Homo sapiens: one gene and its partner. The gene in region 1 interacts genetically with each later gene. Each region holds a gene or a part of one and is shown in the gene's direction. Other genes may lie near its edges.

The links. Genes that interact genetically often act in the same process or in processes that back each other up.
Region 2: of KIF2A (region 1) and TSNAX, changing one suppresses a phenotype caused by changing the other (phenotypic suppression), as found in Homo sapiens cells (one study listed by BioGRID).

What each region holds. Positions count from the first base shown.
Region 1 is NC_000005.10:62,301,258-62,309,217, forward strand, and holds the start of KIF2A (kinesin-like protein KIF2A), read left to right. Parts: upstream 1-4,948; 5' UTR 4,949-5,215; coding exon 5,216-5,279; intron 5,280-7,051; exon of another isoform or gene 7,052-7,254; intron 7,255-7,960. UniProt on the Homo sapiens protein: Plus end-directed microtubule-dependent motor required for normal brain development. May regulate microtubule dynamics during axonal growth. Required for normal progression through mitosis. Required for normal congress of chromosomes at the metaphase plate.
Region 2 is NC_000001.11:231,523,691-231,531,681, forward strand, and holds the start of TSNAX (translin-associated protein X), read left to right. Parts: upstream 1-4,978; 5' UTR 4,979-5,120; coding exon 5,121-5,136; intron 5,137-5,564; coding exon 5,565-5,669; intron 5,670-7,991.

The sequences.
Region 1 (7,960 bases):
TTCATTTTATTTTATTTTATTTTTAGAGATAGGGTCTTGCTCTGTCAGGCGGGAGTGCAGTGGTGCAATCATAGCTGACTGTAGCCATGAATTCCTGGGTTCGAGCCATCTTCCTGCCTCAGCCTCCAGAGCAGCTGGAACTAGAGGCACGCACCACCTCGCTCAGCTAATTTTTTTTTTTTTTGCAGGAACAAGGTTTTTACTATGTTGCCCAGGCTTAAAATTTTTTGTAAAATATATTTTAAAAAAGAATTATCACCTGACCTGGAGTGAAAATCACCTGGAGTGAATGTTAAAAAAGTGCATATTCCTACACTTCAAACTAGATCTACTGAATCACAATCTCTGATGATAGGACCCAAGAGTCTGCATAACAATCATCTCATATGACTTTTATGCCCAATAAAGATTGAGAATTATTGGATTAATATGATACTTAACAGTGGCCACTTCCAGAAAATGGGACTTGGAGGGCAACGAGGGCTTTCCCTTTCATTTTACTTTATACACTTTTTGTTTTAAAATTTTATTTTTTATTTTTTGAGACAGGGTTTCACTCTATCACCCAGGCTGTAGTGTAATGGTGGGATCACAGCTCACTGCAGCCTCAAACTCCTGGGTTCAAAAAACTCTCCCGCCTCAGCCTCCAAAGGACTAGGATTACAGGCATGAGCCACCGTGCCAGCCTAAAATTTTTATAAACATTTATTACATATACACTAATCTATATCTACTAGAGATTTTTGAGGTTCAAATGATTGAAACATTAAATATTGATTGTCTGGGTCATATTAATGAGAAAATCTATTACCAATTGAGCTTATTCAGAAAGAGAAAAGATGAGCCAGGCACAGTGGCTCATGCCTCTAATCCCAGAACTTTGGGAGGCTGAGGTGGGCGGATCACTTGAGGTCGGGAGTTCAAGACCAGCTTGGCCAACATGGTAAAACCCCGTCGTCTACTAAAAATACAAAACTTAGCTGGGTGTGGTGGCACATGCCTGCAATCCCAGCTACTCAGATGGCTGAGGCGTGAGAATCTCGATTCTTGTGAATTGCTTAAACCTAGAAGGCAGAGGTTGCAGTGAGCCGAGATCATGCCACTGCACTCCAGCCTGGGCGACAGTGAGGCTCCATCTCAAAAAAAGAAAAAAAACAAACAAACAGAGAGAAAAGACTACCTAAGGCTATAAATTTGGCAACATATAACAAATTATTAAACTTTTCCTTCATTCATTCAACAAATATTTGCTGAGCAGCTGTGTTCCAGGTACCCTTCTATGTGCCAAAGATAGAGTGAAGAATTTTAGGCAAGATTTCTACCCTTGAGGAGGTTACTTTAGAGTTGGGGAGGAAAGACAGATTGAGAAAAGTGGGGGTAAGGTGAGGGACAAGGAAAGGCTTTTTCCAGGAGTGATTTTTGACTGAGACCTGGAAGATGAATCAGTCACATGAAAAGATGAGCAAGAGCAGCCATCCTGATCAGAGATCTTGACTGATTTAAGGGACAGAAAGGAGTTCTGCGAAAATGGAGCAGAGTGAGAGGAGAGCAGCACCAGACGAGGCTGCCGAGGAAGCCAGAGCTAGATCGCGTACAGTTTTGTAAAGAATTCAGATTTTATTCTGGGAAGCCAGCGATAGGTATTAAGAAAAAAATGATATTATCTCTTTTGCATGATCTAAGTGATCAGCAGCCTTTCACCTGGTATTTTCACTTAGCTGAATGTGAATACAAATGTCTGGTTTGAAACTCCTGAGCTCAACGGATCTTCCTATCTAGGCCTCCCAAAATGCTGGGATTACAGGCATGAGCCACAGCACCTGGCCTGGGTTATATTTTATAGGATGGTTTACTTTTATAAAACAAATTACAGGCCAGGCGCGTTGGCTCACGCCTGTAATCCCAGTGCTCTGGGGGGCTGAGGCGGGTGGATCATCTGGGGTCGGAAGTTTGAGACCAGCCTGACCAACATGGTGAAACCCCATCTCTACTAAAAATACAGAAATTAGCCGGGTGTAGTGGCAGGTGCCTGTAATCCCAGCTACTCGGGAGGCTGAGGCAGGAGAATTGCTTGAACCCGGGAGGCAGAGGTTGCAGTGAGCCGAGATTGCACCATTGCACTCCAGCCTGGGCGACAGAGTGAGATTTCATCTCAAAAAAAAAAAATTATAAATATCAAGGCACTATCACATTTTATTTCATTTGTCCTCACAAAAACTTTCTGTGATTGAGAGAATGTAAGTTATTATTCCAGGTTGATCAAAGAGGTAACTGAGATACTGAGCAGTTTAAGAAGTTAACTCATTGAACAAATGTCTGAGTGCAGACTATATAATCCTAATAAAAACAGTAGTTCTTAGTAGGGTATATATCTTAGTGATTAATTAGTAGTTACTAATTCAGGATCTTATTAGTAGTAGTTCTAGTTAGGATTATATATCTTGTTAATGTCTCAGCCAGAGTTAGAATATTTGATCCAGGATGTTGATGGAAACATAGCCACATTGCATGTATTTATGGCTGCTCTTTAGGAAGCCACTAGCATACAAAGCCCATAATGAAAGTCTTGGTAAATACATATGCTGATGTGTACCAAAAAAAGTAAGCCTTTTGGGTATGTCTTATAAAGGAAAGGTTTTGTGTTTGTTAAGTGTTATGTCATACATTTTTATGGAGCAAAACAATGTACATATTTTAAAAATACCTTTTATATGGATTAAAGGTTAAGATTAACCATATAAACCACAGAGTGTAAGGTATGTGTCAGCAACCACGATACAAAATAATATTTTATTGGCTGGACGTGTTGGCTCACGTAATCTCAACACTTTGGGAGGCTGAGGCGGGAGGATCATGAGGTCAGGAGATCGAGACCATCCTGGCTAACACGGTGAAACCTCGTCTCTATTTTAAAAATACAAAAAATTAGCTGGGCGTAGTGGCACACGCCTGTAGTCCCAACTACTTGGGAGGCTGAGGCAGGAGAATAACTTGAACCTGGGAGGTGGAGGTGGCAGTGAGCTGAGATCATGCCACTGCACTCTAGCCTAGGCACGACAGAGTTAGACTTCGTCTCTAATAATAATAATAATAATATTTTATGAAACAATGTTAACTTTGAGCTGTATAGCTTGATTTCTTTGCATTCTTTATAAAGTATAAATAAAATATAAATAGATGTTTTATACCTCAGTTGCAGAGACATCAGAAAATGAATTCTAGACAGGAGCTTGAAGAGTTCAGATAAAACTCCCAAAATTATAGAAAAAATAAAAACTAAACCCTGATTTGGTCAAATTTCACTTGAAACCGGGGTACTCAAGTGTGTCATTTCTGGAATGTAAAAGAAGTTATTTTCCACATTGTCTATCCAGTGTGGTTTTTTTTCCATAGAAATTATATGCACTTTAGAATGGATTCAATAGAATTGTTCTTTTGACAGGTATACCTTCAATATGTTCAAGCTACAGATGAAGCCAGTCTTTTAACAGTTTTTTAAGGACCTACATGATTACTTACATTAGATAGAAAACTCTAGGCACACATATATCCACATAAGCATTGATGTATATATCCAGTTTCCAATTTTAAAATTTTAAATTGTATATTTGTAGTTATTGTTACAGGGAGATTATCAATGACTAGGGAAGGCCGGGCGCAGTGGCTCATGCCTGTAATCTCAGCACTCTGGGTGGTGGAGGCGGGTGGATTACCTGAGGTCAGGAGTTTGAGACCAGCCTGGCCAACATGGTGAAACCCCGTCTCTACTAAAAATACAAAAATTAGCCAGGCGTGGTGGCGCGGGCCTGTAATCCCACCTACTCGGAAGGCTGAGGCGTGAGAATCGCTTGAACACAGGAGGCAGAGATTGCAGTGAGCGGAGATCGCGCCACTGCACTCCAGCCTGAGCGACAGAGCAAGACTCCCCCTCAAAAACAAACAAAACAAAACAACAACAACAAAAAACAATGACTAGGGAAAGTAGGCCATGAAAAGTGTTGTTTCCAACCTATCAATTGCCAGTACTACAAGCAGGAGTTAGACGTTTGGAGGTTTTCACACGGTGCTATAAATACAGTTTCCAGGGCCCCGGTACACGTGGCCTTCCTGCTCTGCCAGGATGGAGAGTCTTGCTTTCCACATTGCTGATGTGGTCAGACTAATTAAATTATTGCAAAAAGACACATTCCCTAGTCAACCTTATGTGTCTGCCTTCTTCCCTTGAGTCACAGTTGTTGGCTTTACAGGCCAAGGCAAGTAAGTCTTGAACCCTCAGCAGAAACAGGGCACCAGCATCGGATGCCTCATAACCTGAACAGTTAAGGACGCCCCACCACAGAGCTTCTTTCTGAGTGTGATAAACTATAAGGCAAGACTGTAAAGGGGTGGATCTTCATTTCGATTTAGGGTAGGTGACACCTCAAGGGTGTTTCTTCCCTTCCAGCGTAACTGGATGGGAAACCTACACCAAGTGTGCTTGGGAGGGCTGCTTGGGTCAGCTACCTGTAAGTGGAAATAGGGGGTGCCACCTTCCGATGAAAACCCGGATCCCGTACTGTCAACGGAGGGCCCTTGAATTCACATCCCTCAGCCCGCTAGAAAGCCCCTGAAACCACGTGGCCTTTAACCCATTCCGGCAACAGCGCCAATTCCCGGAAGCGAGAGGGCAAGAAAGCTCGGCGCGACGCTTCCCGCGTCTTCTAGGCCGCGCGCTGAAATCAAACGCGACGCCGGCTAGCTGTGGGCCGGGCCGAGCGCTCAACGCTCCAGCGGCTGGGTAAGCCGCGGCCGCCGCCCACCCCGCTGCAGAGCTGGGCGGGGCCGCCTGGAGGCAGCGGGGAGAGGCCAGCCGAAAAGGAAGAAGAGACGCCGGAGGCGCGCTCTGCGCAGGCGCGCGGCGCCCCGCCTCCCCAGCGTCGGCTCCCCGGCGGGCGGTGCGGGCCCTCCCACTCTACCCCGCGCCGTCTCACGGCCCCGGCCCTAGCTTCACCCCGACTACCCGGCGTGCGCGTCCTCCTGCCGGCCTGCAGGCCCGGGGCCTCCGCCTGCTTCCCCACAGCTGCTCCTTGCGGCCCCGCTTGCGTTCACGCTGTCGCCCGGGCCGGCGCGGCCGCGGGCAACCGCTCCCCCTCCCACACCTACCCCGCCCCCTCCCCGCCTTTTCCGCCCTCCGGTCCCCCTCCCTCGGCCCGCTGCTGCTGCTCCAGATGAGGTGATGGCAACGGCCAACTTCGGCAAGATCCAGATCGGGATTTACGTGGAGATCAAGCGCAGCGATGGTGAGCCGCGCTGCCAGCCCCGCTGGCCCGCTCGGCCCCGTGTTCGGGTGTGCACGGAGGGGACGCGGGCGCCGGCCGCCTCATTGATTGCTTCGCCGGGCTGTGGGGGTGGGAAGGCGGCGGCCGCGGCGCTTTTGTGTGTGGCGTGTGTGCCAGTGAGGCCGGCTTGGGGTCCGCCCGGGCGCTGCTGCAGTTCTCCGGATCGGGCCGCGGGGGAGGGAAGCCGGGTGGGGAAAGGGCCCGGGTGTCGAGGGTCGCGTCTCCGGGGGTCTCTGGGCGAGGGCCGCTCGCTCCTCCTCCCGCAATCTCCAGCCCCCCCCCGGGGACACCAGCCCGGGAGGGAGCGGGCTTCGTTAGGGATGACCCTGCCTCGCGCTTCCCCTTGGTCTTTGCATTTTACCGGCTTGGCCTCTGACGGGGATGGGGATGGGGGTGGGGGAGCGGGAAGACCAGCGATTTCACATTTAGAGAACCGACTGCTGGTCGGAGGCCGAGATGGGGGGAAAGAGCCAGTTCCGTCGCCTTAAACTGCCGTCTGGTTGTCAGGCCTCCCCGGTTTCGTCGTCGACCATGCTGCTTTCTTTTTTGCCACTTCTTGGGAGAAAAATGTGGAGAATATCGCGCTGAGCCATGAATAAGGGTGGGGGAGCAATGGGAAGAAATATTCGATGGGCTTCTCCAAGGTGATGAGACTGTAAAGGGAATGATAGGGGATGGGCAGAGTCAATGCGAGGCACTGCTGAGAGAGTGGGGGTGGGCGACCGGATGTTGATATTTTCACACCCTCGGGAGAGGTAACTGAGAAAAGTGTAAGGCGAGGTGAAGACACATGCTTCATTTTTTTTTTTAAGAGCCTTAGGCTTATGTATCTTTCTCTAGGTTTCTCTTGGGGAAAATGGTTTATGACACTAGCTTGGGGTGTGGAGTGAGATACGCCAGCCAGACTGGAAATAATTCATATTGTAAAGGAATAAATGCACGGAGGGAGATAAGTAAAATTATTTTCTTTCGGTACCAATATTGAAAGAACGAGAGATGTGTGATAATCTCGAGTTGAGCAGTGTTCCTGACTCCATCTCTCATACCGATTCCTTTTTTTTTTTTTTTGAGACGGATTTTCACCCAGGCTGGAGTGCAGTGGTGCGATCTCGGCCCACTGCAACCTCCGCCTCCCGTGTTGAAGCTATTCTTGTGCCTCAGCCTCCTGAGTAGCTGGGATTACAGGCGTTGTCACCACACCCAGCTAATTTTTTGTATTTTTAGTAGAGACGGGGTTTCACCATGTTGACAAGGCTGGTCTCGAACTCCTGACCTCAAGTGATCCACCTGCCTCGGCCTCCCAATGTGCTGGGATTACAGGCGTGAGCCATCGCGCCTGGCCTCGATTCCTTTTATGAGTGCCTTATTTATTAACCTTTAGCCTAGCCTAGTCAGTAGTAACTTGGCTGTCACGTCCACGTGCCCCTTGGATTCTGCCAGGTTTGACCAAGTTACGTGAAGCTAGATTGATTTTCATGTTGTGTGTATGATATATTGGAAGACCCTATATAGCTAATGATTTTTTCCTCCGTTATATTTGAAGTAATTTGTGGTAACAACTGAAACCATCGTTATCCTGTATATGAAAAGATAAATTATACCGCTTAGAGCTTTAGAAATTACCAATAACACTAATGGGAAAGAGATACCTTCTTTACTTGGGTTGAGGTTTCTTTTATATTTTCTCTTCAGATTACTTTCTTGAAAGAGTGCTGTTAATGTCATTTTTTTAGGTAAATACGAGTTCACAGTATACCAGCAAAAGTAGGATTTACATATTATTTTGAAGATTCTGGGTGCACAGCAACACCTGTCCCTGGTATACACCCAAGGGAGAGGAAATCACCACCTTGTGAAGATATCTGCACTCTCGCGTTCATTGCAGCATTATTCACAGTAGCCAAGATAGGGAAGCAACCTAAATGTCCATCGATGGGTGAGGAATGGCTAAAGAAATTATGTGTGTGTGTATACGTTTATGTGTGTGTATAGACAATGTACAATGGAACATTATTCAGCCTTAAAAAAGGAGATCCTACTGTTTACCACAACATAGATGGACCTGAAGGACGTTATGTTAAATGAGATAAGCCAGACACCAAGGAAAATATTGCATAATCTCACTCATATGTAGAATATTTTTTTAAGGAGCTAAAATACACAGAACGAAACAGTGGTTACTACTGGTGGTGGGGAAGGAGAGGAAATGGGGAGATATAGGTCAAGGATACAAAATAGCAGATATGTAGGATGAACAAGTTTAGAGATACAGGGGGACCAATGTTAGTAAAATTGTATTAGAGATTTTTGTTAAATAAGTGGATTTTAGCAGCTCTTGTTAAAGTATGTGAAATGATAGCTATATTAATCTGCTTCACCATTTTGCTGTCTATATTCCATAGCATCATGTTGTAAACCTCAGTTGCACAATGAAATTTATTTTTTAAAAAATTAGGGTGCAATAAAATGTGTAAATTCTTTACACTCATAAGTATGAGTATAGGTGTTAACTTTGAAATCGTATCAGAAAAAGTATATGATATTTGATTTATACATTTTAATTTCTACGGAGCATATTTTATTTAAATTTATTGAACTTGAAGCAATTTTCGTTCTTTTCAGCCTTCACCTTCAGCCTATAC
Region 2 (7,991 bases), on another chromosome or scaffold:
TTTGGACTGGATTTATGAGTTTTCTGAACTGAATATATGAAGTGCAGGAATTGTTAGATTATAGATGGCATTTAAAACCATAAGAATGGGATCAACAAGGGAGTAAGTGTAATAGAGAAGAGAGGAGGACTTCTGCAGCAATTCAGTGTTTGGGGAGGTAAGGAGAAACTATAAAGGACTGGGAAGAAGTGGCTACTGAGGTATTATAGAAGGAGAGTCAAGAGAATGTGGTTTCTAGACACAGGGAATGACAACTGTTTTAAATGCTGCTTCAGGGTCAAGTGAGATGAGGAGTTAGAACTGACGATCAGATTTTGCAATGCGGAAGTCATTGCAAAATCCCTAGATTTTGACAAGAGCAGTTTCTGAGAAATGATGGGGTGAAAGCCTGATTAGAGCTAGATCAAGAAGAATGGGAGAAGTAGAGATAGTAAATGTTTGCATCCTGTATGGCACCAATCACATTGTCAGGCATAAACCAGGCACAGAAATATTTGTTGAAATATTGTCAAACCTATAAAGTACTTTACATACTTTTTTGTTATGGAGTATTAAAAATAAACTTAAGCCGGCCAGGCACAGTAGCTCACACCTGTAATCTCAGCATTTTGGGAGGCTAAGGTGGGCAGATCACAAGGTCAGGAGTTCAAGACCAGCCTGGCCAACATGGTGAAACCCCATATCTACTAAAAATACAAAAAAAAAAAAAAATTAGCTGGGCATGGTGGCACACACCTGTAATCCCAGCTACTCAGGAGGCTGAGGCAGAAGAATCGCTTGAACCTGGGAGGCAGAGGTTGCAGTGAGCCAAGATCGTGCCATTGCACTCCAGCCTGGGTGACAGAGCGAGACTGCATCTCAAAAAAATAAATAAATAAAAATAAAAATAAAAATAAACTTAAGCCATATTGTTTAATGCTTTTTCCTAATAACATTGAATTATCTATATATTTACATGTATATAGTAAATTTACATATATATATATACACAATATATTTACAAGACTTGAAAGGAATGTTTCCCAACACTTTTAAAAATTTGTTTTAATAGCTTCATTGAAGTATAATTCACATGTAACTCATCATTTAAACTGACTGATTCAATAATTTTTAGTATATTCACAAATAGGTGAAACCATCACCCTAGTCAATTTTAGAACATTTCCGTCTCCTCACAAAGAAACCCTACATCCTTTAGCTATCACCCCTCCACCTCACTGTTACATGGCCCCTAGCCCTAGGCAACCTTGAATCTACTTTCTATCTATAGATTTGCCTATTTTGGACATTTTATATAAATGGAATCATATAATAAGTGGTCTTTTGTGACTGACTCCTTTCACTCTGCATAATGTTTTTAAGTTTCATCCATGTTGCAGCATGAATAGTACTTCATTCCTTTTTATTGCCAAATGATATATCATTTTGTTTATCCATTTATCTACTGATAGACATTTGGGTTATTTCTACTTTTTGGTTATTGTGAGTAGTGCTGCTATGAACATTTGTGTTCAAGGTATATAGTTAACAGTGGAATTGCTGGGTCATATGGTAATTCTATGTCCAACTCTTTGAGGAACTGCCAAATTGTCTCCTATAGTGGCTGGACCATTTTACATTCCTACCAGCAATTGATCAGGGTTCCAATTTCTTCATATCTTCACCAATTATTATTTTCTGTCTTCTTTTTAAATTTAGTCATCCTAGTGGATTTGAAGTGATATCTCATTGTGGTTTTACCCATCACTCTTTACTTCTTCAATATGAGCTTCTCTTTCTTGTGTTATAAAACTGGAACATCATTTTCTCCTACTACATCCTAGCATTGCTTGAAAAATAAATCTTTGAATTTATTCACAATAAAGGTAATGTGTACACTTCACAATACCACTCTGGATCCCACAGATATCTTTTAAATATTATGGTTATCTTTTAAAAAACAGAAACTCCAGATTCTTACAATTCCCCATGATCTCTTCTACCCCAGGATTTAGTTATTTATGTAATAACTAAATAAGGGAAATGCTGAAATAGATAATCTGTTAATTATCTTCTCTTTACTGGATTATATGATTTTCCTTCAATATCCAAAACCAGTTTTTTTTGTTTGTTTTTGTTTTTGTTTTGAGGTGAAGTCTTGTTCTGTGGCCCAGGCTGGAGGTCAGTGGCGCTATCTTGGCTTACTGCAAACTCCCGCCCTGGGTTCAAGAGATTCTTCTGCCTTAGCCTCTGGGGATTACAGGTGCGTGCCACCACACCCAGATAATTTTTGTATTTTTTAGTAGAGACTGTTTCACCATGTTGGCCAGGCTGGTCTCGAACTCCTGACCTCAAATGATCTGCGCGCCTTGGCCTCCCAAACCAGTTTTGATATGCGATTTTTCTCTTAATCTAATGGTGACCAATGAGAGGATTTATGAACTGAATAACCACCATGCAATTGAAAGGCTTAGTGCTTCATTCAGAGTCAAATATAGGCAATTAGAATGCAACAGGGGGCCAGGCACAGTGGCTCACTGTAATCCCAGCACTTTGGGAGGCCTAGGCAGGTGGATCACTTGAGCCCAGGAGTTTGAGACCAGCCTGGGCAACATGGCGAAACCCCGTCTCCACAAAATGGAGAGAAAAAAAAAATTAGCCGTGCATAGTAGCATGTGCCTGTAGTCCCAACAACCTGGGAGGCTGAGGTGGGAGGATCACTTGAGCCCGAGGAGGTCGAGGCTGTAGTGAGTGAGCCGTGGACTGCAGCCTGGGTGACAGTGAAACCGTGTCAAAAAAAAAAAAAAAAAAAAGCAACAATAACAAGTAAAAACAACATCAGAGGTAAGATCCTACTAAAAATCTTTACCTTCCTCTCCCTGACTTGGGGTGGTTGTCTTCCTTTAAAAAACAAACAAAAAACTGTTTTGCCAAGTACCAAAACTATGTGTTTGCATCTGAAGCAATAAAACAAGGAGACCAGGTAGGGATGCAGGTTGTTACAGAAGTTGAAATCTATTTCCTGACAAAGGAGTAGCTACAAGTTGGAACACCTGGGGAGGCCTGGGGTAAATGCATATGCAAATAAGTGCTGGGAAAGTGCTCCTGGGATTCACCTCCCTTAAATACTTTCAGAAGTCATTACAGGTTATGAAACTTAGTGTTCTAATCATTACATTTATGGGAAAGAGTGGAAAGCAGTTCAGGTAACATAGCTGTAGTTGAACAGGCTAGGGGAGTGGTGGCTGGAGAAAGAAAAGAAATATAGTTGATCCAGGTTTTGGAAAGTTGAGATCTTGGGATGTGCTACTCCAGGAGAGTTAGGAAAAATACCCTTTTCCTCGACTATGGTACAGTACAGTAAGTATTGACTCTGAAAATGTTCGTAAGTACTGGCTTCCTTGGATCTAGAGGGAGTCACATTAAAATGGCTACATTTGTATCAGAGCTGTCTTTTATTCTTTTTGGCATGGTCAAGTCATTTCTAATCAGAGTAGGGGGAATACTGGTAGATCAGACGTCACTCAAACTCATGAGAATTATCTGTTTAACATCCACAAAGCAAGTAGCCCAACAAGCAAGGTCCCCAGGAGCCTACTTTATCCTCAAGGAATCTGCTTAGTCAATTGACGTATTCACAGGGCTGGAGAGGTATGAGTGGTGGTTACCTTCGTGCCAGAGCAGAACATGCCTTGTAGTTACTGCCATATTCTAGCCAAGTTACTCCATTTACTGTTCCTTTGTTCCTAAATTAACAAGGAGAAAAGACTGTGTGTTCAACACATGACCACAATAGAGAGGTTATTTAGAGAAAGCTTAAAATGTACTTGTGTTTTCTGTACTAGGCCTAGGGCACCCCAGTTATGAAGCCTTGGCCTGAGTTTCTCTCTAGACGGTGCTGAATTGCCATCTAGTTACCTATTCTGACACCAGGAACATGATTCTTCAACAAACATTGACGGAAGCTTACATGGGACCGGATCACAGCGCTGAGAAGCACTGGGGCTAAGGGGCGGCACAAAGTCTAGATATGGTGGCAGCACCTGCTCATAATGAAATGCCCACAGTTTAGTGGAACACAGCTGCTATTACTCACCTGTCTATCATTTTGTTTGGGAGAGCCCTGGTGGGAGAGGAGTATGGTATTTAATATTTAATTGAGCAGTTATATGTGAAAGAGCGTTTTCACGAGACTTAACTCCTTTCATCCTCAAATAACCCTACAAGGCGGGTACTATTCTATCCCTATGTTACAGATAAGGAAACTGAGGCAGAGAAGTTGCGTGCTTCATCAAGGTCACACAACCACTCCGTGGAGGCAAGTTGAACACAGGCTGTCCGGCTTCTGAGAGCCAGTGGAGAGGAGGGAGACGGTGGGAGACGGGCAGGGGGAAAAGGTGGAAGTAGACCCGAAGGGCAGGCTTGATCTTCATAAGAGAAAACAGTACTAACACCATCCACTGATTGACTCGCATATTTCCATCACTTAAAGCTCCTGGCGTCACTGCCAGGAATGGAAAGTTAAAAAACTCCCAGCTCTGTAAGGTTCTGCCTGGATCCTGAAAAAAACCTTCCCACATGCCCCGAGGAAACTCGAGGGCTCGCTTCTTTCTCACATCCCTGGCCCGGGGCACCGGAGGTCCCGCTCCGGCGGAGGAACTACAACCCCCACAGCACCGCGCGCGAAGCTGGGCCCCCCTGAGGGAAGGGTAAGGTGTCCCGAAGGTGCCTTCAGAAAAAAATTACGTACGTTTTTCGTCGCTTTCCCACGATCACACAGATCTCAGGTCCAGGAGGACGCATCGTCTTTTTAGTAACAGTGCATGCTGTGAGGCTTGTAGAGTCGCCTCTCTCTTCAGGCGCAGCAGAGGGCGGCCGCAATAGTACGCTCGCGCGGCGGTGGCGGGTGGTGGTCCTTGGACCACGCGGTGGGCGGAGCCAGCGGCGACGGCCTCCCCTCCCCTCCGGACGCAGGCCGGAAGTACGTGAGAGGAGACTTCCGGCCACTGCGTTGTAGTCGGCCCGGCTGCAAAGCGTTTTTCTGCAGGCTGTTTTCCCAGGTTCCCTCGGCCTGTACCTCGCGCACTCCTCTTGCTCCAGGTCCTTCAGTCTCCGCTCGTCTCACCGTAGGCTGTGACGACATGAGCAACAAAGAAGGTGGCGTCCTTAACAACACGGGGCGTTATTTATCCGGAGGGGGAGGTTCTCCAGTCTTTCTATGCAGTTTTCCCCTTTTCACCCTTGAAGGATGCCTTCGTCCCTTGTAGACTCGGGGGCGGCCCCTCTGTTTCTCTCCCCGGCCAGATCGGCCCTGTTTACACCTCCTTTTTTCTTAAATTTTTGAGGTGTGATTTTATCCTAGTTCAGTAATTGCTGTAATGCCAGATCATAGCACCAGTTGGTGGAAACTTGGATGATTTGCTTGGAAAGGCCTGGGCAGCGTCTCTGTCAGTCTGCGGAGAAAGCCTCTAAGGCGAGGGCCCTGTGGGTATCTGGTTTTAAAGCAAGGAGTAGGTTTGTCTATGTTGTGTTTTGCAAACTCTTGGTGATGGAAGATCCCTCTCTTTTTTTCTTCTCTATATAAGGATCAGGAGGGTTCAGGAAAAGGAAGCATGACAATTTCCCACATAACCAAAGAAGAGAAGGGAAGGATGTTAATTCATCTTCACCCGTGATGTTGGCCTTTAAATGTAAGTTCTCTGCAATGTAAGTTGAAGAAGGGGAGAGAACAAAATTATTTAGCCATGGTTATGCGCAAGAAAACAGTCCCTAAGAATTTAATGTGAAACTTTAGCTGGAGGTTTTGTGATGGCGCTAGATGTACCCTAAAAGTCTGGATTACAAAGGCCTTCACTTTTATGTCCCATTAAGAGAAATATTAGTAATCAGGTAAACATGACTTAAACACAAGAAACAGTAAACATTAATTAATATTTGACATGTCACATACTCAAGAATTGTGTACCTGATAATATTTACTCATCTGTTATATGCTAAAATATATTTTCATTTAGTGTGTATTTGTTTCCTCTACTAGACTTGAAGACAGGGACGGTATCTTTGTTTTAACTGTAACACTTAGCACAGAGTGGGAGCTTGTATCTATTAGTGAATCTCGCATATCTATATACACATATTTTCACAGTCCCCTTTTCTCAGCATATTAACTTGGACAAGTTATTCCTCAATTCAAAACAAACACAAAACAAAATCCTCTTCCTTTTGTCCCTGTCTATCCACTATCCTGTACCTTACGTTTCTGTGATTAAGGAATCTGGGAAGGGCTTAGCTGGTTGATTCCTATTTGCAATCACCTGAAGCCTTGATTGGGGCTGAAGGATCTACAGCTGTTGATAGTTTAGGCCTTTTGCCTGCAACCAGCTCTCTGTTCCTGTCCACATGAACTTCTTGTGCTGCTTGGATGTCCTTTGGTGTGGCATCTGGCCTCCTTCAGAGAGAGAGAGTGCAAGAGAGCAAGGAGGAAACCACAATCTCTATGTCCTAATCTCAGACATCAGACACTGTCATTTTTGTCACATTGTGTTTGTTAGAAGGGAGGCAGTTTTAAAAACTGTCTCACATTGAAGAGGAAGGAAGTTATGTCCCACCCTTTGGAGGGAGGAGTCTCAGGTTATTTGTGGATATATTTGAAAACCACCACAGTATCTACTGTGATCGTCAGAAGTTTAAGACAGCTGGCCGTAATTGAATAAAGAGCGTACTGATACAGAAGGTGGAGTTGCGGCTGGGTGTGGTGGCTCACGCCTGTAATCCCAGCACTTTGGGAGGCCGAGGCGGGGGGATCACGAGGCCATGAGTTTGAGACCAGCCTGGCCAACATGGTGAAACCCTGACTCTAATAAAGTACACGGTGAAACCCCGTCTCTACTAAAAATACAAAAAATTAGCCGGGCGTCAGTAGTCCCCACTACTTGGGAGGCTGAGGCAGGAGAATGGCGTGAACCCAGGAGGCGGAGCTTGCAGTGAGCCGAGATCGTGCCACTGCACTCCAGCCTGGGCAACAGAGCGAGGCTCCGTCTCAAAAAAAAAAAAAAAAAAGTACGAAAAATTAGTTGGTCGTAGTGGGAGGTGCCTGTAATCCCAGCTACTCGGGAGGCTGAGGCAGGAGAATCGCTTGAACCCGGAACGCGGAGGTTGCAGTGAGCCGAGATCGCGCCTTTGCACTCCAGCCCCGGCGACAGAATGAGACTCCATCTCAAAAAAAAGAAAAGGTGGAGTTGCTTCTAAGGTGGTGTCCTCATTACCCGTCTGCTGAACTACAGTTTTTTGGTTTTTTTTTTTTTTTGAGACAGAGTCTCTGTCACACAGGCTGAGATAATAATTAGGCACGATCTTGGCTCACTGCAAAACCTCTGCCTCCTGGGCTCAAGCCATTTTCCTACCTCAGCCTCCTGAGTAGCTGGGACTACAGGCGTGTGTCACCATGCCTAATTTTTTTAAATTTTTTTGTAGAGACAGGGTTTCGCCATGTTGCTGGAGGCTGGTCTTGATCTCCGAGCTCAAGCAGTCTGCCCGTCTCGGCCTCTCAGAGTGCTGGGATTACAGGCGTGAGCCACTGCGCCTGGCCTGAACTACAATTTTCTTTAAGACCTAGCTCAAGTAGCCTCTTTCCTGTGAATGCGTTCTGATTTTTCTCTCAAGCCGACTTGGTGACCAACATGAAATATTTATTGAGTATCTGCTATGTTCTCGCATGTATTAGTAGTGAACAAGAAACGTGGTTTCTGCTTTCATAAGTTTTTTACATATATTTGTTATAGCATGATTACATTTTATTTGTTTACATCTCTGTCCCTCATACAGGACTGAGCTCCTTGAGGATAGGAATTGTTCCTTATCTAACTTTGTGTTCATAGTGTCTGACTTACAGTGGTCATTAATATAGCCATAATAAATAATGAATACATATTGATTATCTTAACCCTGGCCTAGTTATTATCTCAGTAATAAAAGACTAGATATATTTAGATCCATGTCAGCTACTAATTTAG